Regions from separate parts of the Homo sapiens genome. Here regions 1, 2, 4, 5 and 6 are each linked to region 3. The links come from fine-mapping of genetic effects on gene expression. A gene starts in region 3. Each other region holds a variant in brackets. All regions are shown on one strand. Distances are from middle to middle. Region 1 has its middle 22 kb from the start of PI16. Region 2 overlaps PPIL1 (peptidylprolyl isomerase like 1). Region 3 holds the start of C6orf89 (chromosome 6 open reading frame 89). Region 4 overlaps C6orf89 (chromosome 6 open reading frame 89). Region 5 overlaps C6orf89 (chromosome 6 open reading frame 89). Region 6 has its middle 6.1 kb from the start of FGD2.

Region 1 (4,088 bases), 47 kb before region 3:
CAATGGCAAAAATACTGGTGGTGAGCCACAAAATCAGTTTAAATATAAAATGAAGGCCGGGCGGGGTGGCTCACATCTGTAATCCCAGCACTTTGGGAGGCTGAGGTGGGCAGATCACCTGAGCTCAGGAGTTCAAGACCAGCCTGGCCAACAGGGTGAAACCCCGTCTCTACTAAAAATACAAAAATTAGCCAGGTGCGATGGTGTTTGCCTGTAATCCCAGCTACTCAGGAGACTGAGGCAGGAGAATCGCTCAAACCCGGGAGGCAGAGCTGCAGTGAGCTGAGATTGTGCCATTGCACTCCAGCCTAGGTGACAAAGTGAGATTCTACCTCAAAAAAATAAATAAAAATAAAATAAAATGAAGTCCCAGCTACTTGAGAAACTAAGGCTGGAGGATTCTTTGAGGCTGGTGAGAACAACATAGTGAGACTTTGTTTCAAAAAGAAAGAAAAAAAGACTGTGGTGAGAATTAAGGTTTCAGAGCAGAAGGAAATGCATAGACTTTAAAAACAAAATCAATATAGGAATAAACAAATTGAGGAGAAAGAGCAAGCTATTTCCTTATCTTTAGAGCCTTGGATTATGCCATCTAAAAAGGAAACCTTATTAAGAACAATTCTAGTTTCTTAATGTTTCTCATAATATTAACTTCAGGGAGATCTTTTGGGAACTACTAATTTTTGTGGGGAAGAAACATCTACTTCAGTTTCTTTTTCTCCTGTTAGATTCACATAAAATTAGATTCAGAACTTTTCTTTTTAAAATAGCATTTTAATATAAGCATTTCTATTTAGCATTCTACCTAGAAATACCTTAGACATACCTAGAATGCTGTTCACCTAATGTTAGTAGTTATCTCTGGGTGGTTTTTGGTTTTTTGTTTTTAAGAGACAAGGTCTCGCTCTGTTGCCTGGGCTGGAGTGCAGTGTTGCAATCATGGCTCACTGCAGTCTCAACCTCCTGGGTTCAAGCGATGAGGCTGAGGCTGGGACTACAGGTGTGCGTCACCACACCCAGCTAATTAAATTTTTCTTTTTTTTTTTTTTTTTTTTTGTACAGACAGGGTCTTACTATGTTGCCCAGGTAGGTCTCAAACTCTCGGTCTCTCCCCTTGGCCTCCCAAAGCACTGGGATTACAGCTGTAAGCTACCGCACCTGGCACTGAGTGGAGGTTTCCATAAGATCACCCAAACTGTCTTCAGTTCTTTATAATAAGAATGTATTATTTTAAAAAAAATAATAGAGTCATTATTCTGAAAAAATAAGATTGGTGAAATGTCTGTCTTCAGCATGGTGTCTAGAGGCTTGTCAGTTTGATTTAGTAAGAAAGCCTAAAGGACATGTGTCATGTCACAGGAATGTGCAGTAATAAGATGGAATTCAAACTAAGCAAAAATTCATACTGAATTTCAAAAACATCATGGGCTAGGAATTATAACTTCTAATTAAAACCGCCTGGATGCAATTTGATCTATGGATTCAATGCAATCCCAATCAAAATCAAACACAAGCTATTTTGTGGATATCAATAAACGGATTCTAATGTTTAAATGAAGAAGCAAAAGACTCAGAATATCCAACTTAATACTGAAGAAGAACAAGGTAGAAGACTGACACCACTCTGACTTCAATATTTACTATAAAGCTATAGTGATCGAGACAGCGTCCTATCAGCAAAAGAACAGACAAATATATCAAAAGACCACGAGAGAGAGAGCCTAGAAACAGATCCACATAAAGATACTGATTTTTTTTTTTTGTTTTTTGAGATGGAGTCTCGCCATGTTGCCCAGGCTGGAGTGCAATGGCTCGATCTCAGCTCACTGCAACCTCCACCTCCCAAGTTCAAATGCCTCTCCTGCTGCAGCCTCCCGGGTAGCTGGGATTCCAGGTGCCCGCCACCATGCCCAGCTAATTTTTGTATTTTTAGTAGAGATGGGGTTTCACCATGTTGGCCAGGCTGGTCTCAAACTCCTGACTTCGTGATCTGCCCGCCTTGGCCTCCCAAAGTGCTGGGGTTACAGGTGTGAGCCACC[G/A]CACCCAGCCAAAGTGTTGATTTTTGACAGAGGAGCAAAGGCAATATGCTAGAACAACTGGACATTAACATGCAAAAAATGAATCTAGACATAGACCTTATACCTTCCATAAAAATTCGCTCAGAATGAATCTAAATGTGAGTATAAAATGTAAAAGTATAAAACTCTTAGAAGTTAACACAGGAGAAGGCCCTAGATGACCTTGGTTATAGAGGTGACCTTTTAGATACAACACCAAAGGCATCATCCATGAAGAAACCAATGATAAGCTGGACTTTGCTGAAATTAAAAACTTCTGCTCTGGAAAAGACAATGTCAAGAAATGAGAAGACAAGCCACAGAACTCTTAAAACTCAATAGTAAGAAAACAACCAACCAGACTATAATAAAAAAAAAATGAGCAAAAGATCTGGAATCCTCACCAAAAATGATATATAGATGGTAAATAAGAAAACATGTTCAACATCGTATGTCATTAGGGAATTGCAAATTAAAGCAGTAAGGTGTTACAAACCTATTAGAATGGCCCAAATCCAAAACACTGACACATGCTGGTGAGGCTGTGGAGCAACAGGAACTCTCATTGCTGGTAGGACTGTAAAATGGTACAGCCACTATGGAAGACAATTCAATGGTTTCATAAAAAGCTAAACATACTTAGGCCGGGTGCGGTGGCTCACACCTGTAATCCCAGCACTTTGGGAGGCCGAGGCGGGCAGATCATGAGGTCAGGAGAGCGAGACCATCCTGGCTAACACGGTGAAACCCCGTCTCTACTGAAAATACAAAAAATGAGCCGGGCGTGGTGGCGGGTGCCTGTAGTCCCAGCTACTCAGAAGGCTGAGGCAGGAGAATGGTGTGAACCCAGGAGGTGGAGCTTGCAGTGAACTGAGATTGCACCACTGCACTCCAGCCTGGGTGGCAGAGCAAGATTCCATCTCAAAAAAAAAAAAAAAAAAAAAAAAAAAAAAGCTAAACATACTCTTACCATATGATCCAATTATTGTACTCCTTTGTATTTAGTTATATGAACTGAAAACTTCTGTCCACACAAAAACCTGCGCATGAATGGTTTTAGTAGCTTTATTTACAATTGCCAAAACTTGGGAAGCAAACAATATGTCCTTCAGTAGATGGATACATAAATTCTGGTATATCCAGACCATGGACTATTATTTGGCACTAAAAAGAAATGAACTATTGAGCCATGAAAAGATGTTGAGGAAACTTATGTGCCTATTACTAAGTGGAAGAAGCCAGTCTAAAAAGGCTACAGGCTGTATGATTCCAACTATTTGAACATTCTGGAAAAGGCAAAACTATGGAGACAGTAAAAGATCTGTGGTTGCCAGGGGTTAGTGGGGAGAGAGGGATGATCAGATAGAGCATAGAGGATTTTTAGGGCAGTGAAACTACTCTGTATGATACTATAATGGCAGACATATAACACAGGACAACATACATTTGTCCAAACCCATATAGGATGTAAAACACCAACAGTGAAGTGAACCTAATATAAACTATAGACTTCAGGCGATAATGACCTGTCAACGTAGGTTCATTGACTGTAACAAATGCACCACTCTGGTAGGGATGCTGATAGTGGGGGAGGCTGTGCACATGCGGGAACAGGGGATATATGGGAACTCGCCGTACTTTCCATTCAATTTTGCTGTGAACCTAGAACTGCTCCAAAAATTAACAAACAACAAAAACCCCAGCCTGGACGTTTCCAGGAATTAGGATGGTCCAGTAGAGGAGGGGCACAGGAGATGAGAAGGGGAAGCAAAGGAGATGAGGCTGGAGTGGTGGCCAGGACTTCTCCTGTGGGCAATGGAGAGTCACTGAGGAGCAAGGAAGGGAGGTGACCAGACATCAGGGCAGCTACATGGATGGTGAATTGGGATGGGGAATGTGCGGCGAGAAACCAGTGAGGTAATTACTGGCAGAGTCTAAGAGTGAAGCAAGCTCTTAGACAGAGACAGCAGCAGTGGAGCTCGATATGTGATAAGGAGGCAGGATTGTCCTGAGCTTGGTCCTGGTCAGAAG
Region 2 (4,075 bases), 30 kb after region 3:
AAGCAGTCCTCCTGCCTCAGCCTCCTAAGGAGCTGGGACTACAGGCATGTGCTACCACATCTGGCTGAATTTTAAAATTTTTTTGTGAGCCAGGTGCAGTGGTTCACGCCTATAATCCCAGCACTTGGGAAGCCAAGGAGGGAGGATTGCTTGACGCCAGGAGTTTGAGACCAGCCTGGGCAACGTAGCAAGACCCCATCTCTAAAAAAAAAAAATTTATGGAGTCAGGGTCTCGCTCTGTGGCCCAGCTCAAACTCCTGGCCTCCAGCAGTCCTCCTGCCTCAGCTTCCCAAAGTGCTGAGATTTTAGATGTGAGCCACCACACCTGGCCCTGTTTTCTCTTAATGATGTACTGCCTCACCTCTCAGTGGACTCTGCCGACCGTAATGTCCCTTTCTGCCACATTGCCACTTACCAGCTATTTCTCCTTCAGCTGGATAGCTTTAACTTAAATGAATTTTATTTTCCATCACCTAGGTTAAGGGTGGCAAATAGGTTTCAACTCTGGGGCTATTACTGATTAATTAATAACGGCTGCCTGAGTTCTGGGTTGATAACATTCAGAGGCAAATCTAGCTCAGCAGGGAAGAATACTGATTGATTGGCAATGTCTGTGATGGGCACAGGGATAGGACTTGGGGCACTCATGTCTAAAATACTCAAAAAAAGGTTAAAAATCAAGAAACCTCTTAACACATCAGATTATGAATGGTGGTTATCTCTAGATGGTCAGGTTACAGAGGATTTTAATGTTCTTTTGATAATGTTCTATGTTTTCTACCTTTTTGATAGTGAACATGTATTATTTTAATGTGCAGGAAAAAATAGCGTTATTTTGAAAAGGAAAGTCTTATCGGAATGAAACCAATGATTTGAATGTGCTATTAGTGCTAGATTCTGTAGTTGCAATATACCTAGCAGTGGGGTAGGTGTCACTGCCTTTTCCTTTCCTCTACTCTGAGAAATCCTTTGACCCTGGGCCATCATTCTTGCTGTGAGATAGAATGTGTGACTGGCTGATTCATGTGTCATCTTCCAATCGGGCAGGTCGAGGTGGTGCATCTATCTATGGCAAACAGTTTGAAGATGAACTTCATCCAGACTTGAAATTCACGGGTAAGTGTATAATTTGGCTGGACTGGGTAGGAACGGGGATTTTAAAAGCTCACTCTTTTGGCCATGATTCAAGGTGAATGCCTGACACCGTGGCATGGTGCCAGATAGCTGCCCAGCCATGGCGCCATGAAGTGCCCTGGTGGATTAGAGAAAGCAGCGCCTCTCACAAAGTTCTGAGCAATTCAGAGCACTGGTCGGTGTGTTCTAGACTCTAACTACTTGTTAAAGGTCACAGGATATCAAAAGTGTCCTCAAAGAAACAGGAAACCTTGCTGGGTTTTTGAGGGCAGTCAGGAACATGGTCCACAGTTAGTGAGGAGCATCAGGGGTCAAGGCTGGGGAATAGGTGAGGACAAGGAAGATGAAGTCGCCAGAATAGTGTAGTGATGGCCTTTGTACAGGGCAGAGAGACTGCCCTGAGGGGTTGTCTGGGTCTGGACAGAGGCCAGAACAAAGTCCTGGCTGCTTTTTCATCCCTAGGATGGGGCAGCAGCTCTACACTGGACCTGTGGGGTTATTTATACTCTTTCCTTTCTTCCTTTTTCCCACCAGGGGCTGGAATTCTCGCAATGGCCAATGCGGGGCCAGATACCAATGGCAGCCAGTTCTTTGTGACCCTCGCCCCCACCCAGTGGCTTGACGGCAAACACACCATTTTTGGCCGAGTGTGTCAGGGCATAGGAATGGTGAATCGCGTGGGAATGGTAGAAACAAACTCCCAGGACCGCCCTGTGGACGACGTGAAGATCATTAAGGCATACCCTTCTGGGTAGACTTGCTACCCTCTTGAGCAGCTCTTCTGAGATGGCCCCAGTGAACCAGCTTCTAGATGACATAGAATGACATGTAATGCTAAATT[C/TC]ATTTTGGCTTTGCAAGTCATGAAGCTTAGGAGGCCTGGCATCTTGGGTGAGTTAGAGATGGAAGTACATTTTAATAGGATGCTTCTTTTCTCTTCCCCCAGTGCCTAGGTTGCCAGAGCATTTGCACAAATGCCCCTGTTTATCAATAGGTGACTACTTACTACACATGAACCATAATGCTGCTTCTTGTGCATGTCTGCTCTGATATACGTCGAACAATGTAGCAGCCACTGTCATTTCTCAGTGGTTTTGCCTAACCAAACTTCTTCCTAAGGAGATTTATATTCTGGCCTACACAGCAGTCCTTGATGGCTGACAGCCACAGAATTCCAAACCAAGTAGTGTCTGTCAGCCCTCTTAACTCTGTGCACGCCCTATTTCAGTCTTTTACATTTGTTCTTCTAGGGAATGTATGCATCTCTATATATATTTTCCCTCTCAAAACCAGAACATCAACAGTGCTGTTTCTGACACTTCAGACATCCCACGCAAAGCCACATTGAATTTTTGCCAAATGAAAAACACATCCAACAATCAAGTTTCTAAGAAGGTGTCAAGTGGGGAATAATAATAATGTATAATAATCAAGAAATTAGTTTATTAAAAGGAAGCAGAAGCATTGACCATTTTTTCCCAGAGAAGAGGAGAAATCTGTAGTGAGCAAAGGACAGACCATGAATCCTCCTTGAGAAGTAGTACTCTCAGAAAGGAGAAGCGCCACTCAAGTTCTTTTAACCCAAGACTTTAGAGAAATTAGGTCCAAGATTTTTATATGTTCAGTTGTTTATGTATAAAAATAACTTTCTGGATTTTGTGGGGAGGAGCAGGAGAGGAAGGAAGTTAATACCTATGTAATACATAGAAACTTCCACAATAAAATGCCATTGATGGTTGAAATTGCTGCTGTGGTCTGATTCTAAATATTGTATGAGGTTCCAATGGTCATTTTAATCCCAGTCATCTTAAGTAGTAGTACAGAGATTGAATGTTCAAGATTTCACATCATTTTAGGCTTGTGGATCTCCAGTAGACTTCTCCCTCTTTAAGAGCAATTCTAACTTTAAAAGGGCAGAACCAGAGAAAGAATTAAGTGACAGAAATTGACATTTCTGAATAAGAGGTGTATTCATCTGTTTTCACATTGCTATAAAGACACTACCTGAGACTAGGTAATTTATAAACAAGAGAGGTTTAATTGACTCACAGTTCCACATGGCTAGGGAGACCTCAGGAAACTTACAATAATGGTGGAAGGCAAAGGAGAAGCAAGCACCTTCTTTACAAGGTGGCAGGAGAGAGAGCGAGCACGGGGGAAACCACCATATTTAAACCATCAGATCTCATGAGATCTCCCTCACTATCGTGAGAACAGCATGCAGGGGGAAAATGCCCCATGATCAGTCACCTCCCACCAGATCCCTCCCTCGACACAGAGGATTACAATTCGAGATGAGATTTGGGTGGGGACACAGAGCCAAACCATGTTGGGGGGATTACCTGTAAGTGAACCAGGTGTATGTGCTAAGAGACCTGCACCATCCCTGGAATTTGCAGAGAGCCCACCTGCACATTATTATGGGACCAGAGGCAGTATATGTTGTGGTGTTTGGTTCCTTAAGCTGGTAGCTCCTTGAAGAGGGGATTATAACTTTAATGTTTCTTACTACTCTATCAATTTTGGAAATGGTGATTTACTTTATGGAATGGCCAAACAAGGTTCTGTTCCCCAAGCCTTCCCTACCTTCAACCTCTTTCTCTACCTTTCTCTTTTCTCTCAATAGCAAAAAAGCAAAACCCAACAACAAACCATATAAATGACTTTGTAACTTCCCAGAGATGGTTTTTGTATGCAAAGTAGTGTTCTACACTCTGGAAAAAATAGAAATGTATTTCTTTCAGCCTGAACTGGGTGGACATAATTGGATCTGCCTCTGAGAGCAAGGAATAGCACCTGTTCACTAACCTCCCAGAATCGTAATCCTGAAAATCTCCACTTTCATCCAAGGCACAGGCGTGGTGGAAACGTATCATGGCTACTCTGAAGCAAAGAAGGTTCTGCATGCCTTGGGAGGAGAGCCACACAGGCACAGTTCCTTGTT
Region 3 (4,088 bases):
TGGGAGGACTGCTTGAGCCCAGGACTTCCAAGACCAGCCTGGGTAACATAGCAAGACCCTGTATCTACAAAAAAAATAAAAATAAAAATTGGCCGAGTGTGGTGGTGCCTGCCTGTAGTCCCAGCTACTTGGGAAGCAGAGGTGAGGGGTAGCTTGAGCCCAGGAGTTCGAGGCTGCAGTGAACCGTAATAGCACCACTGTACTCCAACCTGGGTGATGGAATGAGATTCCTGTCTTTTTTAAAAGATAAAGTCCAAATTACTTACCATGGCCCTTTATGATCTGGTCACTGCCTACCTGTTCAGTTTCATTTCCCATCAATCCTTCTTCACATTCTACACTGTCATACTATTTCACATCTTTTTGCTTTTGCATACACAATTTCCTCTGCCTAAAAAGCCTAGTCTCCAGTGCTTTGTCCAATAAGTGAACTCTTTAAGACTCTGACCTCAGTTTTTGTCCTATGCACCTCTAGGGCTTGGCATTACATCTATTTTCCTGTCTACCTCCCACCCTAAATAGTGTTTCTTGAAAGCAGAGATAAATGGAGAAAACACAAAAAACTAAGAACAGACGTGGGAATTCACCTCAGATGTGGAATCAGATCAATGTTGAACAAATTTATAGAAAGGACCTAAAATTATCATTCCGAACTAATTGAATGTAACTCGTGGCTCATGGTTTATTCATTTTATGTTTTATTATTTTATTCATTTTTAAAAATGCAGAGGTCGGGAGCCTGAGGCAGGAGAATGGTGTGAACCGGGGAGGCGGAGCTTGCAGTGAGCAGAGATCACGCCACTGCACTCCAGCCTGGGCGACAGTGTGAGACTCCGTCTCAAAAAAAAAAAAACAAAAAAACGCAGAGGTAGCAACAATGTGATGAGGGTTTAAGGTTAGCAGGTTAGGAATCTAGCATTTGGACATTGTTTCTGGTGTGTGGAGTAGCTGTGGAGGAACAGGTATTCAAAGCAGGTCTTGAAAAATGCCTCAGTCCAAGGCAGAAAAGGTCTGACAGAAACAGGACCTCTTTCTGGTATGCAAGTTGGGCTACATGAACCTTTAGTCAAAACTTCAATGTAGCAGAATTGAATTTATTAGTTATTATTTTAAAGGCATGTTATTCCCTAGAGGGAAATTTTGACAACCCAAATTCAAATGAACGAATTTATTAAGGGAGAGACGTCTATAGAAGATCCCACCACAGGAACTACCAAATGAGCCATCAGAAAAGTCAGAATACTAAGTATCTGGAAGTAGTCTCTATTATAAAGTGATTTATGACTAAATACTTTAAAAGAAACATATTTGCGAATACAAAGGCTATGAGGGCTCTGAGACTAGAAAGTGTGGCCTGCACGGTTAACAGTCTTAAAATACTACAAAACACGACGCAGGCAAATTTCCTTCTACTAAGAGGTGATTACAAACAACTATTTTACTTGTGTCAAGAAACCAAGTCATATTTCTTTCTGAAATCCAAGATGCCAGGTTTATCACATACCAAGTACACATTTAAAGAAAAAAAATTATTGCCCCCTAACGATTATTAGAAAAAGATCTTTCAGAAGGGGGTGGGGAATCTACTCTTAATTTCTTAAAAATTCCGTCAAAAGGGCAGAAATCTGGACTTCATTAGCAACGCTCAAGTTATGGACACTGCTGTGATGCCTGAGAACCAAGTTCAAGCAAGGTCCACCTCGTTTTGCTCTCCCCGGCGGAGTCAAAGAAAGTGACAGATGTCTTAAGGGAGTCGACCCCGGGGGAGCTGCCAGGGGATGCTGTCAGTCTACAAAACTGGAGAGACTGAGAAAAGGGATCCGCGCTGGGATAGAGGGTGGTAGCAGCGGCGAGAAGCGGCTGCGCGAGGATGTCAGAGACGGGCGCGGCGAGGCTGTCACAGGGCGGCCTCCCCCCACCCAGCCTCGGGCCCCAGTCACTCACATGCGGGGCTCGCGCCCCTCGGGCTCCTCCCGCCTCGGGGACAGCTGCCGCCGGGCGAGGAGGATGGGCAACTTCCTGTTTCCGGGAGCGCGACCCGGAAGCAACCCCCCACTCCTGGGCGAGGCCTTGTACCCTAGAGTAATTCCTCCTCTCGTCCAGCGCTTCCGCCCAAAACAGAACACTCAGTGTCGTGGCGAGCGCGGGACCTCTCGCGATATCTGGAGAGTGTAGGTTCTTGCTCCCCCTGGCGTCCTTCTTCCGTTCTGGCTCTTTTCGCCCCAGTCCTAAATCCTTGTCTTCCTAATTTACCTGGACTGGCTCACACAGACTTCATAGCTGAACTGATCCATAGAACAAGCATTTACTGAGTCCCCTACTATGTGCCAGGCAGCATGTTAGGCATTAAGGGATGGGAGTGGAAGGGAAATGTAAATGAAGAGCAGCCCCTTCCTTCTGGAAGCTACTACTCTTGAGAAAGACGAACAAATCCCTCCAGTTTTCACTCAGCCCACTCATTAGTGAGAGCTTACTCTGTTGATAAAAGAAAAACTTAAGCCGAATTAAGTATAAAGGAGTTTAATTGAGCAATGGAAGATTCACGAATCAGGCAACCCCCAGAATCACAGCAGATTCACAGACTCCCAGGGTGCCTCATGGTCAGAACAAATTTATAGATAAAAAAGGCAAAGTGAGGCACAGGAATCGGAAGTAAGGTACAGAAACAGTGAGGTTGGTTACAGCTCGGTGTTTGCCTGATTTGAACGCAGATTGAACATTCAGCAGGCTGTGAGTGGTTGAAGTATGGCCGCTGGGATTGGCCACCACTCAGTTATTGTTACAGGTGTATACTATTAAGTTAGGTTTTCAATTTTGTTTGACTATTAAGCTATGTTACAGTTCATCCACAAGGACTCAAATATAGAAGGACAGAGTCCTTCTCAGGCCATATTTAGTTTGCCTTAACAATTCCCCCGTTTTGGTCATTTTCTCAATTTTGAGAGATTGACCAAAACCTTGGTCATTGATGTTATTATCGCTGTCATAAGTGTACCTGTATGGTTTTGAAACTCACTAGGAAACAGTAGAACAGTGGGTTTTGCAGGAAGAGAATAAGGGCTGAGTAGAGGATACCTCCTTATTCTGAAACATCTGTTTACAGGAGAAAAAACCTGGTCTGTTCTAGCATTTTGTGTTTTTTTAAAGCCTTGGTTTGATTATGTCACATTTAGCATGAGTGACTCCATTTTAGTTTGGTTTGGTTTGTTGGTGCCTAGTGCATGAGCTCAGTCCAAAATAATGGCCTCCCATGATTTTGTTTAAAAAAAAATTCCTCACTTTTGGCCAGGTTCTTACTTAGGTGACAGCGTGACCAGAACTTAGGGCCTTAGCGCCACTCTCAGTTACATCATTTTGGGTTTCTGGTCTCAGCATGTCATTCATAGGTTACGGTGCCTTCATGGTCACACATTTCTTTCAGTTTTTGTTATTCCAGTTGAAAAGAGATCATTTGACGTTGTAGAGATGGCTGCATGCAAGCATTTAAAATCTTTGAGAGAATACAGTGCACCAGGGAGACTATTATTATCATTATCGGGCGGATAATAGCAAGAGTTTGGAGTATGCTCCTTACCCAGGGTCCCCATAAGCCAAACCACCTAAAATTAAATAGATTGAAGAATGAGTTAGATGAAGAGTCTCCTTGCTTGACTAAGTGGTCTTTTCACTAATCCCCTACAACTGGATATTTATTTTTATTGTATTTATTTTGTGAGAGGGAGTCTTGCTCTGTCACCAAGGCTGGAATGCAGCGGCGATCTCAGCTCACTACAACCTCCACCTCCTAGGTTCAAGTGACTCTCCCGCCTCAGCCTATTGAGTAGCTGAGATTACAGGCACCTGCCACCACGCCAGGCTAATTTTCATATTTTTAGTAGAGACAGGGTTTTGCCATGTTGGCCAGGCTGCTCTCAAACTCCTGACCTCAGGGGATCCGCCTACCTCTGCCTCCCAAAGTGCTGAGGTTACGGGTGTCAGCCATCACGCCCGGCCAGAATTGTTTATAATTTACATTTGCTGTATTTCTCCATAGGCCACAGGTGTCAACAGCTGCACAGGTACTTTTCTGTTTAGCCAATTCTATTACT
Region 4 (4,088 bases), 20 kb before region 3:
GAGAATTCAATGCTGAAGTGTAGAGGTAAATCATCTCAGAAGGCTGGCCCCAGAGAGGTATCTGACAGGAGCAGAGGTGGCCAGGCTGGTGGCCCGCAAAGAAGGAAGGGAAGTAACAAGAAAAAAGGATCACTGGAATGGGGTAGCCTATGCCATCCACCTGAACTAAGGGAGCCCAAACTTTAAAAGAAAGAACTACTTTTGATTTCTCTGTAGCCTGAGATCACCAAGGTGGATAAAGCATAAGCTTAGAGAGAGGAACGGGCAAACGGTGAACTAGGGGTGGAGGTAGGGTGCAGGCTCCTCTTCCTCTCCCCACAGAGTCCCTGACAACAGAAAGAGATGTGGCCAGACTCCAGCTTGGCCTCTGTCCATCTGAAAAGGTTTTGTCTGACGTGTTCTCTATACAACTGGCTGGAGCCATCATGCCACAAAGTGAACAAAATTCCATCCTGGGAAACAGCCAACAGCACACAGCCAGCCGAGCCCATGCCACCCTAGTTTACGGCTTTTGACTACCTAATATGCTGCATCTCACTTCTTTCCAGCCCTCCTGTTTCTAACCACTTTTCCTGAAGCACCAGACAGAAAAGTCAGCGTAAATTATATAGCAACTTCCTACTTTTAATTTCTAAGGCTTCTTTACTCCAGATATCCCTCATACCAGATATTTTAAACATTTTTTAAAGGTATGACAGAGAAGAGAAATCCTACATATAAAAGTTCAATAAAGCTTATAACTTGTATTTCAAGTTTTCACTATGATTTGGAATGATTTCACTGTTGGAGATGTCAAAAACAGTCTCTCAGACAAAACACAGCCTTGAAGTCAACGTGCAGAGACCATAACTATCCACCCTTCTTTACAAGTTGGGCACTGGGCAGAAAAATGGATGGGCCAGCGTCTCACCCATCAGGGAGCTTCCTGGTGCCTGAGAGTTATTTACAAGAAAACTCACTTAGGCTGGTTCTCTGTAGACAACCATAACATATCCTGGAATTCTGAGTGGGGAGAGTACTGTTACATAGATTATTTACCTGGCAAAAACAAAACAAAACAAAACAAAACAAAACAAAACAAAAGATTTCTTTCCAGGACAAAAAACTCCCTCTGGATAAAAAGGATAGGGAAGAAAGAAAAGAACAAAGCCAATACTAGCTCTACAAGAGCAGTGGTTTTGTCTGTTTTGTTCACTGCTTTGTTGAGAACAGTGCCTGGCATATATAGCAGGGTCTCAATAAACATTTACTGAATGAGTGAATGAAGTTGGGGAGAGGGAGGAAGGGATGGAAGGAGGAAAAGAAGGAGGGAGGAAGGCAGGAAGGCAGGCAGGAAGGCTGATTTTTCAGAAGCTTTAACAATAGAATTAAGTCCATGGGGAGAAAAATCAAATGAGCAATCTGGATTCACAGAAACCTCAAAATAAAGATTAAATAAATATAACTTCATCATTTCTTGCATTATAAATATAGCCAAGAAAACCCTGCAAAGCCCATGACAAAGTTCCCATGACTTTCACTAGTGTGTGCTCAATATTTAATCAGGCTGCTCTCCAGAAGCTTGTTTGTGCATAGCACCTCTTCTAGTACCCCGGGCATGAGGCAGGGGTGAAGCCTTGACAATGAAGGAGGCTTCTGCCAGGTCCCTGCATGTGTGGCACCATGCCCAGAGCCATTTTCACACACCGTAGAGGGAAAGAGCCCAAGAAATCATTTCACCAACAGCCTTGCCTCCAGGAAGCAATGCATTTGAACCACTCCAAACCACAGAGAAAGTCTATTTTCATGAGTTCTCACTTGTACAAAAATTTGTTTCTAAATGTGAAAATTTATTATCAAAAACACAGCAAAAGAAAAAATTAAAAATAAATAAATGTGAGACTTCAGATAAGTCAGTCAATCCCCTTGCACATCAGTTTCCTCATCTTTGAAATGAACATAAAAACAGTATCTACCTTATGTGACTGCTGTGAAGACTGAGAAATAAACTGCACGGCACAGTACCTGGTATACAGTAAGTGCTTGACAGAGCTGTTATTATCACAGAAGGTAAGCTTATTTTGCAAATAAAAGAGGAAGGTTTTCCTTGCGGTCTAAGCAGTTCATCTTTGAGCACAGATCTGGACTCTCTAAGTCTTACTAGATTCTTAGTTTGAGGCCAATAAATGATTTGCTATTTCCAAAACTTCTTGATGTTGCTGGATCTACTTCATCCTTCCTTTGAAGGTTACGGGATGCATCGAGTTCCAAATGTGTGCCTTTTCACTGTATGTGAGAACTATCCCAGGCTTCCTCAGTAGAAATGAATATGTTATTTTTAAGTTGGCCAGAAAATGACCAAAGTAAA[A/C]AAAATAATTGGCTGAACATGCTAGCGCCTGGCTTGACTGAGGGCAGAGATGGCAGGCTGTAAGTGTGATATCTTGGACAGAATGCTAGAGGGAGTTAAGAAACTAGGGTTCAAGTGTGATTTTGCCACTTTTAGCTGGGTAAGCAAGCTCCTTTACCTCTCCTGGCCTCAGTTACCTCTTTTATAAAATGGGGTATGTACTAGATTAACTCTAAAATTCTTTTCTGGCTTTAAGACTCAATGATTCCATGGAAATGGTAAAAACCAAGGGGATGGCCGGCAGGAGTAAAGTGACTATAAAGATATGAAGCCAGGAGGGGAGAAAAGCAGTAAGAATGTGAATGTAAAGAGAAAACTCTGGGTCAGTAAGAGGAAGGATTAAGTCAGTCAAATATTATCCATAAGGGTGCAGACTAGGGAGGATGAACTGGGCTGAATGTCAGGGTGCAGACTAGGGAGGATGAACTGGGCTGAATGTCTAAGACAACACCAGGTCGGGAAAATTCTAAAGGGTCAGAAGCTTGGAAGACCACTTATCTTTGGAACAGCCAGAAAGAATATTGTCTCTTCAGGGACTAGGGAGTTAAGAGAAAGTAACTGATGATCCGAGAGAGACAGTGGTAGAACTCCAACATCAGACTTAAAGCTAGACTCTTCAGGTCTACTGCACAGCTACAGACTACTCACATCAGAGGCGAAGGGCTCAGACTCTGAAGACTGGCTGCCTGGGTTCAAATCATGGCTCCGTGACCAGACCTGGGACCTTGAGCAAGTGACCTAACCATACTGTGCCTCAGTGTCCTCATCTGTAAAATGGGCATAAAACCTGAAGCTACCCTATAGGGATGTTGTCAAGATTAAATAAGCCGATATATGGAAAGCCCCCTGAACAGGGTCTGGCATCTGGTAAGTAATAAACAACTGTCAGTTTATTTACTTATTTTTTGCTGCAGAGCGGGATGTTTCCATGACTCGCTGCAAAGTCACTTCATTCTTCTTATTGAGAGCATTTAGGGGCAGGATTTCCTATCTAAGGCTGAAATCTAGAAAAAGAACCCCACCTCTGTCACCTTTTTGTTCCCTGGGTGGGGTCAGGGGAAACTTCCAGTCATTGGTGGTGGTGCCTCTTGTACATCACCAAGGCTGCAGCTGCCCTCCATCATTCCCGAGGTGCCACTGCAAGGAGCACCAGATGACCCTGGGAGTGTGAGACAGGCCAGCACTTCAGGAAACCATATGGGGTTTCCTTTCGGGAATCTGTCACACCATTCTCCCCTTGCATTTACTTTAAATGTATGGCCAACTAATCCTAACCTGAAGGTAGTTGTTTTTTGATACCAGGACATTAAAAAATGATATATTTTTACTTTTCCTGCCCTCTTACAGGCCCAGATTAAGTTGCACTTAATTCTCCCTCATGTGTTTCTGTTTACTCTTCATATAATTACGTGTTTTTAACTTTTCTTCCAAATGCTACGCAAAATGCTGTTAGTTTCACATGTCTACAGCTTCCCAGAATTATCATACATAGGAAAATATGGTGCTTCCACATCCACATTTACAAGTAAAAACAGCACTTTAATAGAATCAACAACATTAAAGAGCTAAAGCCACACCCTTCCAATGCTCACTCGCTCTCTCTACAACTGAGCTCCAAGGACTCATTTTATTTCCATCTGCAAGGCAAAATATTGATTTGAAGTAGTCCAAATAATCCAGCTTGTTTACAAGACACTAATGT
Region 5 (4,088 bases), 31 kb before region 3:
ACCTTGATGATGACAGAAAACCCCTAGGGCCTCTTCTCTCATCTCTTCCTCCTATCTCTTGCCCTTCAGAGAAACCCTTTATATGCCCATATAAAGTGGGAGCCAGAAGTCTGACTCCCTGGGCCATGTCTTGGTTTTCTCTTCACCACTCAGGGCCTCCAGAGTCTTGGGTTTTGGCCCCATCTTCCCCTGTCCCCAACCCTGTTCTCTCTGCTGCTGCCACAGGCCTTGCCCATAATGTTTTCATGGCAACACCAGAGCCATTTCACCGGCTAATGTGGTGACAGGGACAGCCTGGTGTCTTCAGCTAGCCTTCAGTTGACTGGTACTAATATTGGCAGAAGCCTTAACATCTGTAGTCCTCAAAACAATCTCAGAAGGACCAAAACAAGTGGCTGTATCCCTTCTTCACACAGGCCTGAAGTGGGCAGGGTCATGTTCATCCATTCCCAGGATGGGAAGAAACAGACAAGAGGGTGGCACAGGCCAGCCCTAGGCCACACCGTGGAGTGGGTGAAGTGGGCCTTGGAGGCCCTCACCTTCTCCCCGAGTGCCACTTAACAACCAGCTCCCCAATTCTGTCCCAAGGCTGCCTTTGGACACTGGGCCCACAGACACGTGACTTTAACAGGGCCCAGGGCCCAGGGCCCAGGGATGTGGACAACAGGGTGGGGTAACAAGGCTGCGGGGAAAGGGGAGCTTGGGCCAGGGTGGGGAAACAGATTCTCTAAGAAACTGGGTTCTCAAGAGTTTTGCCTGTCTGGCCACTGCCCTTCCCAAAACATCCTCGAGAACCACAGCATGACTCTCGTAAGCATTTGAGTAACTCTGTATTTACTCCTTTGGCTGGGCTCCTTGGTGTTGCACACGCTGGAGAAATTAACTTTGGTATTCAAGTGGTAAAACCAAGAGAAAGATAAAGCCGTGTCCCAGAATTATATTTATGAAGATGAAATCATACAAGGGCCTGGAATTCCAGCCGGCGACAGCAGGATAAACTTCTTTAAAATCTGAGGCAAGAGCCCAGCATCTCCACCCCAGTGCTGGCAGACAGAACTTCTTACTTCTAGACAAAATGATTGTTTTTATAGGCTTTTAAATTCCTTTAACACAATTCAGCAAATTTGGAGCCAAGCGATAGTATCAGGAGGTGGAAGCCATGGTCCAGAGGTGGCAGGGGGCCATAGTTTGGGAAATTTATTTTTTTATGAAGGAAAATGCATGCTTTTAATTCTCCCAAACCGATCCAGGCTCAAAAACCTTCCTTAGGAATGAGACTCAACAAAAGGAGCAATTCAGAGAAAAGTAAACAGACACAAATGCAGAACAGCTTCTCCCAGTCCACTGGCCCCAGAGAGGTAACTTTGGCTCTGAGCACTTGGCCCCAGACTGAAGTGGGAAATGATGGGGGCAGAGTGGGCTTTTCTACCCCAGCTGGGCTGCCTGCCTATCAAATCCTTCCCAGGCTCCCACACTTTTTGCCTTTCAAGTTCTCTACCTGAAATCTCTTAATTGTTTATTTCTGGCAAAAACCATCCTGGGGGTGAGAGGGTAAAGGGTGTGTCCTTGGGCAACTCACTTAATCTCTCTGGGACTCAGTTTCCTTATCCACAAAATGGAGCAGTTATTCTATTCATCCACATACTATTACCTTATAGCTTTCTTTTCTTTTTTTGAAAAAATAGAGATAGGGTCTCCCTATATTGCCCAGGCTGGTCTGAAACTCCTAGGCTCAAGCAATCCTCTTGCCTCAGCCTCCCCAAGTGCTGGATTACAGGCGTGAGCGACCACCGATCATGGCTGCTTGCCTACTTTCTAATTTAAGGTAGGAAAGCCAGACTAATTGCACCCTCAAGTCCTTCAAATTTTAAGATTTCACTTCTTTTAATATAGAAAAGTAGTTTGCCTCAGGTGTTAAGGGCAGGAGGCAGATTTGCAAGGTAACTAGATTTTCTGGAAACCTGCCTTCATGACAAGGTGGGCCCCTGCAAGTCTCCTGGCTAGCAGCAGGAGGG[G/A]AGAACTAGACTGTGTGGGTGTCCCCTCAATTCACCCTGTAACCCTCTAAGCCAATATGCAGGGAAGGCCTTGGTTATGACATCAGTCCAGGTCCCAAATAAAGAAAATTCTAGATCCAAGTCCTCTCAAAATTTCCTACCTTACTCCCCACAACAGGTTCTGGGTGAAGAAAGGAGCACTTGTTTAAAGAGGCATCTTTTGGAAATGGCAGGTGAGTGAAAACAGGAAAAAGCTCACGTAACATTTGTGATCTGTTCAGAGGTCTCCTCCTGTAGAAGTATGAAACAGAAAAAAAGTAATTAAACTGGTCAAGCCAGCCCATGACTAAGAGAGAGCCAAGTAAGGGTGGGAAAACTGTGGGCGGTGGGTAAAGAGGGAAAAATATGAGTACAGTATCTTAAGTACTAGGTCCCTGAAGAATAGTTGCACAGAGTCAATGAACTATAATGTGTACACACACAGGCATAAACTCTACAGCCATGATTTGAGTATGTGGGTGGAGTGTTTCTAAATTGCAGCTAAAACAATATATATTGGAAGGAAAGAAATAATCTATTCATTCTATCTTGGAAAAGACTGAAGTAACAGCAGGCCAGGCGGGGGAAGGGGAGAAGAGAGAAGGAGGAAGGGACAAAAAGCATGACCCTTCTTCTGAGGCACAGGGAGACGCAGGGGGAAGCCTGCTCAGCTTGTTCAACTGGGCACTCTAGCACGCAAACAAACAGCACATTTAAAGAAAGATAGAAGCATTAAGAAATTAACAAAAAGCCTGAAAAAGTCATTTTAATTCTTTCGAAACAGTTCTAAGATGGAAACTGGCTTTCTTTTCTTACTAGACAGCAACCTTAACCACAAGGAATGAACCATGTCTTCCGCAGGGCACAGGAAGGAACAGCAGGACAAACTGGGGTTTCGATCCTGGCTGGGTAACCTTAGGCAAGTTACTTAATCTCTCTGTTTCCCATTTTTCTTTCTTTCTTTCCCCCTCCCCCAACCTTTTTTTTTTTTGAAACAGGGTCTCACTTTGTCGCCCAGGCTGGAGTGCAGTGGTATGATCATGGCTTACTGCAGCTTCAACCTCCCAGGCTCAAGCCATCCTCCCACCTCAGCCTCCCAAGTAGCTTGGATATTTTTTGTAGAGATGGGGTCTCCCTATGTTGCCTGGGCTGGTCTCCAACTCCCGGGCCCAAGTGATCAACCCGCCTCAGACTCCCAAAGTGTTGGGATTATAGGCATGAGCCACCACGCCTAGCTACTGATCCCCACTTGTCTGATCTGAAGAATGACAACAATCATTCCTACTTTCCAGAGTTATTATCAGTGTCCCCAGTGAGACACAGACACTAAGCACCAAGCCACACTGCCTGGCAGAAACAAGTGCCAAAAAATGCAATTCTCCTTCTATTATTTGCACTCTCTCTTCAGCCCCCTGCATGAGGCCCCATTCTACATAAAATGCTAAATGCATACTTCGAAATAAATTATGACTCTATTAGACAAACTTGCTGTCCCCCCCATGGTGGCACCCCTCCTTCTGACACACCTCTTCATCCATCCCTTTTATCTCTCATCACTGGTTTATCAGTGGGATCCCAGCATTGGATTTGTAAAGTGTTGGGCCTGTGGTAGTGGCTCAGTGATAGCTATTACTGTTTTGCAGGTATTTCTGGTCTGCCCCTTTCCTACTCGCACGCTAAGTGCCCCCATAGCCCCCCCATTTTTTTGAGACACAGTCTCACTCTGTCACCCAAGCTGGAGGGCAATGGCGCGATCTCAGCTCATGGCAACCTCCACCTCCCAGGTTCAAGTGATTCTCATGCCTCAGCCTCCAGAGTAGCTGGGATTACAGGCATGCACCACCATACCTGGCTAATTTTTGTATTTTTAGTAGAGATGGGGTTTTGCCATGTTGGCCAGGCTGGTCTGCAACTCCTAGGCTCAAGTGATCTGCCTGCCTCGGCCTCCCAAAGTGCTGGGATCACAGGCATGAGCCACTGTGCCCGGCCCTTTTCACACTCACCATGGATAAGGAAATGGGAACCACCGCTCAGGAAAGCAGCGCCACCACTTGG
Region 6 (4,088 bases), 110 kb before region 3:
TCTTCTGCCACATGGGGATAATTATACTGCCAACCTCCTGTGGTTGTTATGAAGATTAAATGGGATAATAATATATAGAAGAGGTTAGAGTAAGGCCTGGTACTGAGTAGGTACTCGGTGACTGTTGGCTACCAGCATTCTTACTTTTGAGAGAAGCCTTTGCTATAGCTCCGCTCTGCCTTGACCAATCAGTTCCCTTTGCCTAGAGCAGTGGTCCCCAACCTTTTTGGCACGAGGGACTGGTTTCTGGGGTTGCGGGGGGTGGGGAGATGATTTTGGGATGAAACTGTTCCACTCAGATCATCAGGAATTAGATTCTCATAAAGAGTGAGCAAACTAGATCCCTCACATGCACAGTTCACAATAGGATTCGCACTCTTATGAGAATCTAATGCCACTGCTGATGGGACATGAGGCAGAACTCAGGTGGTAATGCTCACCCGCCACTCACCTCCTGCAGTACGGCCCAGTTCCTAATAGGCTACGGGATCCCTGGCCTAGAGTGTCTTCAGTCTGTCTACAGCCGGTTCACTTCCTCCAGGAAGCCTTCCTTTATACCTACTGCTGGAAATTCATTTTCCTCCTCAGAGACCTGGTGTTCCTCTCTGTTTAATTTTGTCTTTTCCGCCCTATTCATTAAGTCACGCATTCAGTAGATAAGTGTTTCTTGAGCACCTACTATGTGTCAATACCATAGTAGAGGTTGTAGATAAAACACAGTCCCCAGCCCTTTAGCTCAAACTCTAATAAGGAAGATGGGCCTGTTAACCACTAAAATAGGATGTGATGAAAGCTTTGAACAAGGGAGTTATGAACATCCAAAGAAGGGTCATCAGAAGGCTTTGTGGCAGAGGTGACTTGAAGTATGAAAGATGAAGGATGGGCTGGGTGCGGTGGCTCAAACCTGTAATCCCAGCACTTTGGGAGGCTGAGGCGGGCGGATCACAAGGTTAGGAGTTTGAGACCAGCCTGGCCAATATGGTAAAACCCCGTCTCCATTAAATTAAAAAAAAAAAAAAGCAAGGTGTGGTGGCAGGTGCCTGTAGTCCCACATACTCAGGACGCTGAGGCAGGAGAATTGCTTGAACCTGTGAGGCGGAGGTTGCAGTGAGCCGAGATTGCACCACTGCACTCCAGCCTGGGTGACAGAGTCTCAAAAAAAAAAAAAAAGATGAAGGATGAAGGATGAGTTAACTCTGTGTGGACAAGACAGGAAGGGGCATTCAAAGCAGAAGGAACAGCATGTGCAAAGGGATATGGGCTTGAGAGACCATGGCTACCATGGCTAGACTGGGAAGAACACAGGGCCTCGCACACGTGGGTGTCCAGGGCCTGGGAAATGGTGGAACCCGCAGCTGAAGGGGTCCTGGAAGCCTGGCCTGCTAGGCTTTGTCTGCCAAACTGAGGTGCTTAGAAGGTTAGGGGAGTGAGTATAGCGTTTTCAGCAGAGTAACCCCTGATCCAGTCTACAGATCTCCCTCTGAGCAGGGGCAATGTCTCCATTTCAGGGCTCTTGGGGTCTTTGGCATGAATAAACCTCTTGTTTTTTTTCTCCTCTTCTCTGCTTTCAAGCCCAAGGGAAGATGGAAGAGCTCAGTTCCCTACAGCTCAGATGGGGGAAGGTGGGAGGGAGGGTGAGGGAGGGATGCCCAAGCAGAACTGCAGGGCCAGGTGGGGACTCGGCTGGCGAGGGATCTCTACCCTGGGGTGCATGCAGAGCGGCTTTGTGTGTAGACTGGAGGCGCCCAGAGGACCTCTTGGGGCAACTTTGGGAAAGCAGAAGGGGCATTTAGAGGCTGCCAGGGAGGAAGTGTCACAACTTAGGATCAGGATGCTATGAGTGTATATGTGTGTATTTGTGGGGTGTGTATGTGACATGTGTGTATCTGGTGTGTGTGTAGGTTGGCGTGTGTGCACGTGCATGTATGTATGTGTGCATTGTGTGTATGAACGGTGTGTGTGTAGCAAATCTGCAGGGGTTCACCAGGTGTAGCCTTTCCGGGGACAGTGAGGACTCCCCAAAGGAGCATTTATCTTCAGGGTGACAAGGACTGGAGGGGACAGGCTGGCATGTTCCCAGGCTCCCCCTTGCCAGCCATCCCACCTCCAGCCTCAGTCAAGCACACAGCA[C/T]CTGCCAAGGGCTTAATGGCCCGTGACAGACAGGCCTGTGAGCTGGGATGATGCGGCTCTAGAGAGGATGCAGGCAGCCAGCTGAAACCTGTGCCAGAGGCTGCCGTGACCCTTGCCACCCCTCCCGGTCTCCGCCTCACCCCCTCCTCCTGCCCACCCCCACCCCCTGCTTTTGGAAGGCCCTAGTGAGGGCGCTGTCTGGGTAGTCACATGGTGGGCAGAGGCCACACTGCCGATGGGAGGGATGGGCGCCAAGGGCCTCCGATCCCTGGCTTGGAGGGAGGAAGCTGAACAAAGCTGGGCTCCCTTGGAGACTCGTCTCATCTGTCCCCTCCTCCAAGCAGCCAGAATTGTTCCACTCTGTCCCTCTGCCGGAAATTCCACCCTTTGCCGAGGCTTTCTTCTGGAAGGGTGCTGGCCCCTTCTGTGGAAGGCCCGCCGGCCTTCCCGCTTTCACCTTTTCCAGGAACCTCCCTATATTTTGCCTGCTATATGCCCCTGACCCTCTGTGGCCTGGGTGTTCCTAAATGTTACTGTCAACCTGAGGAGTGGAATTATTCCGAGTTGGTTCAGCCCTGTGAGGAATACCGGGAGGCAAAACCCACCTCTCTCAATACAGGCTCCTTGCGGCTCACTGCCCAGGAGGATCCGCTCTGAGAGCACAGCCCAGATAGCAAAGGGGTGTCAGGCCTGACGTGGGGGGCAGATGGGTGTCAGGCCTGACGTGGGTGGCCAGAGGACGTCAGTGAAGAACATAAACAGCTCTTTCTTCTTCAGCGTGTGAACTATCTAGTTTCAAAGTTGGCATTCACAAGGATTGGGCAAGGCTTGTGCCAGGATTGGGCAAGGCTTGTGCCAGGCCCTGGCACCCACCCCACTATTCAGGAAGAACTCAAGGTCACTAGAAGCAGAGATCAGGTGGGGCCCAAGGAGGGAAACCAAGAGTGAAATCGCAGGCGGGCTGAACCCACAGTGAATGTGCAGGCTGGCAGGAGATACGCCCCCGGGACACTGGGAGACGGCAGAGGCAAGGATTGTGTTTCTAGGGGAGGAGAGGGGGCCTGGCAGAGCCAGGGCCGGGATCTGGGCAGGGAGGCACCAGAAAGGAGCCAGTAAAGCAAGGCCAGAGCCCAGGAGTGGTGCCAGGCTGTGCCTGAGAAGGCACCCAGAGTGCAAGCACTCAGCCACCATGCAGGGGCCTCACACCCAGCGACAGGCTCCTTCTCTATCCAAATAGTTGTAGGCCTTTCTCGAGGCCCTGACTGCTTGGTTCTTCACAGCGCTCACACAGAAACATGAGTGGCTTGGAGAGAATTGACAGGTTTCCAAGTGGAGAAAGGGAACACATTGTTCCTGCACAGCCAGCCCGCTGCCCTCCACACTGACGACCTTTCTCCCACGACCCATTCCCCCACCTGTGCTACCTCTCCGCTATCTTCCCACACAATAGCACGACTTATTCTCTGCCTGTGATTTCTGCATGAATGCATCTTGTTACTAGGCTCCTCTTGTACCTTCTTCCAGGGAGCTGTTATGTAACAACCACACAGGAGCCCACTAACAGCCCATTGCTCCCATCAAGGAGCTGCCGAGTTCCCGCCCCTCCTCCCACCAGGTCCCTTCCTTCTTTGCTCTCAGCAAATAGCCCCTGTGCTGGGACCTTGGGAAACAAGGAGAAATGAAACCCAAATCCCATCCGAGGCCTCAGTCCTCACAAGATCCAGAAGGGGCAGGACCTTGGCTCATTTGTCTCTGGGTCCCCAGAAGTTAGTACAGTGCCTGCCAAACAGTAGGCCCTCCACACATCCTTTCTGAGTGGGGAGCAGCACATTCCAGCATGCGGGAGGGGGTTGTGGAAGGTTCTCTTTCCTCCGCCTCTTGCCTTCCCTGAGTTTGGCTTTTGGTCTTTCCTTGGAGCAGCTCCTATCAAGCCAAGCTCCGGCCCTGTTCCCCAACCC

The links. PIP is the estimated chance that this variant, and not a neighbour inherited with it, causes the effect.
Region 1: its variant is fine-mapped to the expression of C6orf89 in whole blood (TOPMed, PIP above 0.99).
Region 2: its variant is fine-mapped to the expression of C6orf89 in whole blood (INTERVAL, PIP above 0.99). The same link has a PIP of 0.9 or more in skeletal muscle.
Region 4: its variant is fine-mapped to the expression of C6orf89 in esophagus muscle (GTEx, PIP above 0.99).
Region 5: its variant is fine-mapped to the expression of C6orf89 in lung (TOPMed, PIP 0.96).
Region 6: its variant is fine-mapped to the expression of C6orf89 in esophagus muscle (GTEx, PIP 0.95).

The regions. Positions count from the first base shown.
Region 1 is chr6:36,930,579-36,934,666 of GRCh38, reverse strand. No RefSeq gene overlaps it. Among named protein-coding and RNA genes, the nearest start is that of PI16, 22 kb to the left of the region's middle. The variant G/A (reference allele first, on the strand shown) is at 2,040.
Region 2 is chr6:36,853,627-36,857,701 of GRCh38, reverse strand. PPIL1 (peptidylprolyl isomerase like 1) reads left to right here. Exons shown (of 4, transcript NM_016059.5): 3 at 1,048-1,116; 4 at 1,669-2,873. The coding sequence ends at 1,889. Among named protein-coding and RNA genes, the nearest start is that of CPNE5, 16 kb to the right of the region's middle. The variant C/TC (reference allele first, on the strand shown) is at 1,976.
Region 3 is chr6:36,883,885-36,887,972 of GRCh38, reverse strand. C6orf89 (chromosome 6 open reading frame 89) reads right to left here and starts at 2,021. Exons shown (of 9, transcript NM_001286635.2): 1 at 1,945-2,021. RefSeq lists a silencer at 1,782-1,961 and an enhancer at 2,182-2,261.
Region 4 is chr6:36,904,271-36,908,358 of GRCh38, reverse strand. The region is part of intron 4 of C6orf89 (chromosome 6 open reading frame 89); the gene reads right to left. Among named protein-coding and RNA genes, the nearest start is that of C6orf89, 20 kb to the right of the region's middle. The variant A/C (reference allele first, on the strand shown) is at 2,348.
Region 5 is chr6:36,914,642-36,918,729 of GRCh38, reverse strand. C6orf89 (chromosome 6 open reading frame 89) reads right to left here. Exons shown (of 9, transcript NM_001286635.2): 6 at 4,037-4,088; 7 at 2,156-2,285. Among named protein-coding and RNA genes, the nearest start is that of C6orf89, 31 kb to the right of the region's middle. The variant G/A (reference allele first, on the strand shown) is at 2,016.
Region 6 is chr6:36,997,489-37,001,576 of GRCh38, reverse strand. No RefSeq gene overlaps it. Among named protein-coding and RNA genes, the nearest start is that of FGD2, 6.1 kb to the left of the region's middle. RefSeq lists enhancers at 2,707-3,330, 3,331-3,954. The variant C/T (reference allele first, on the strand shown) is at 2,131.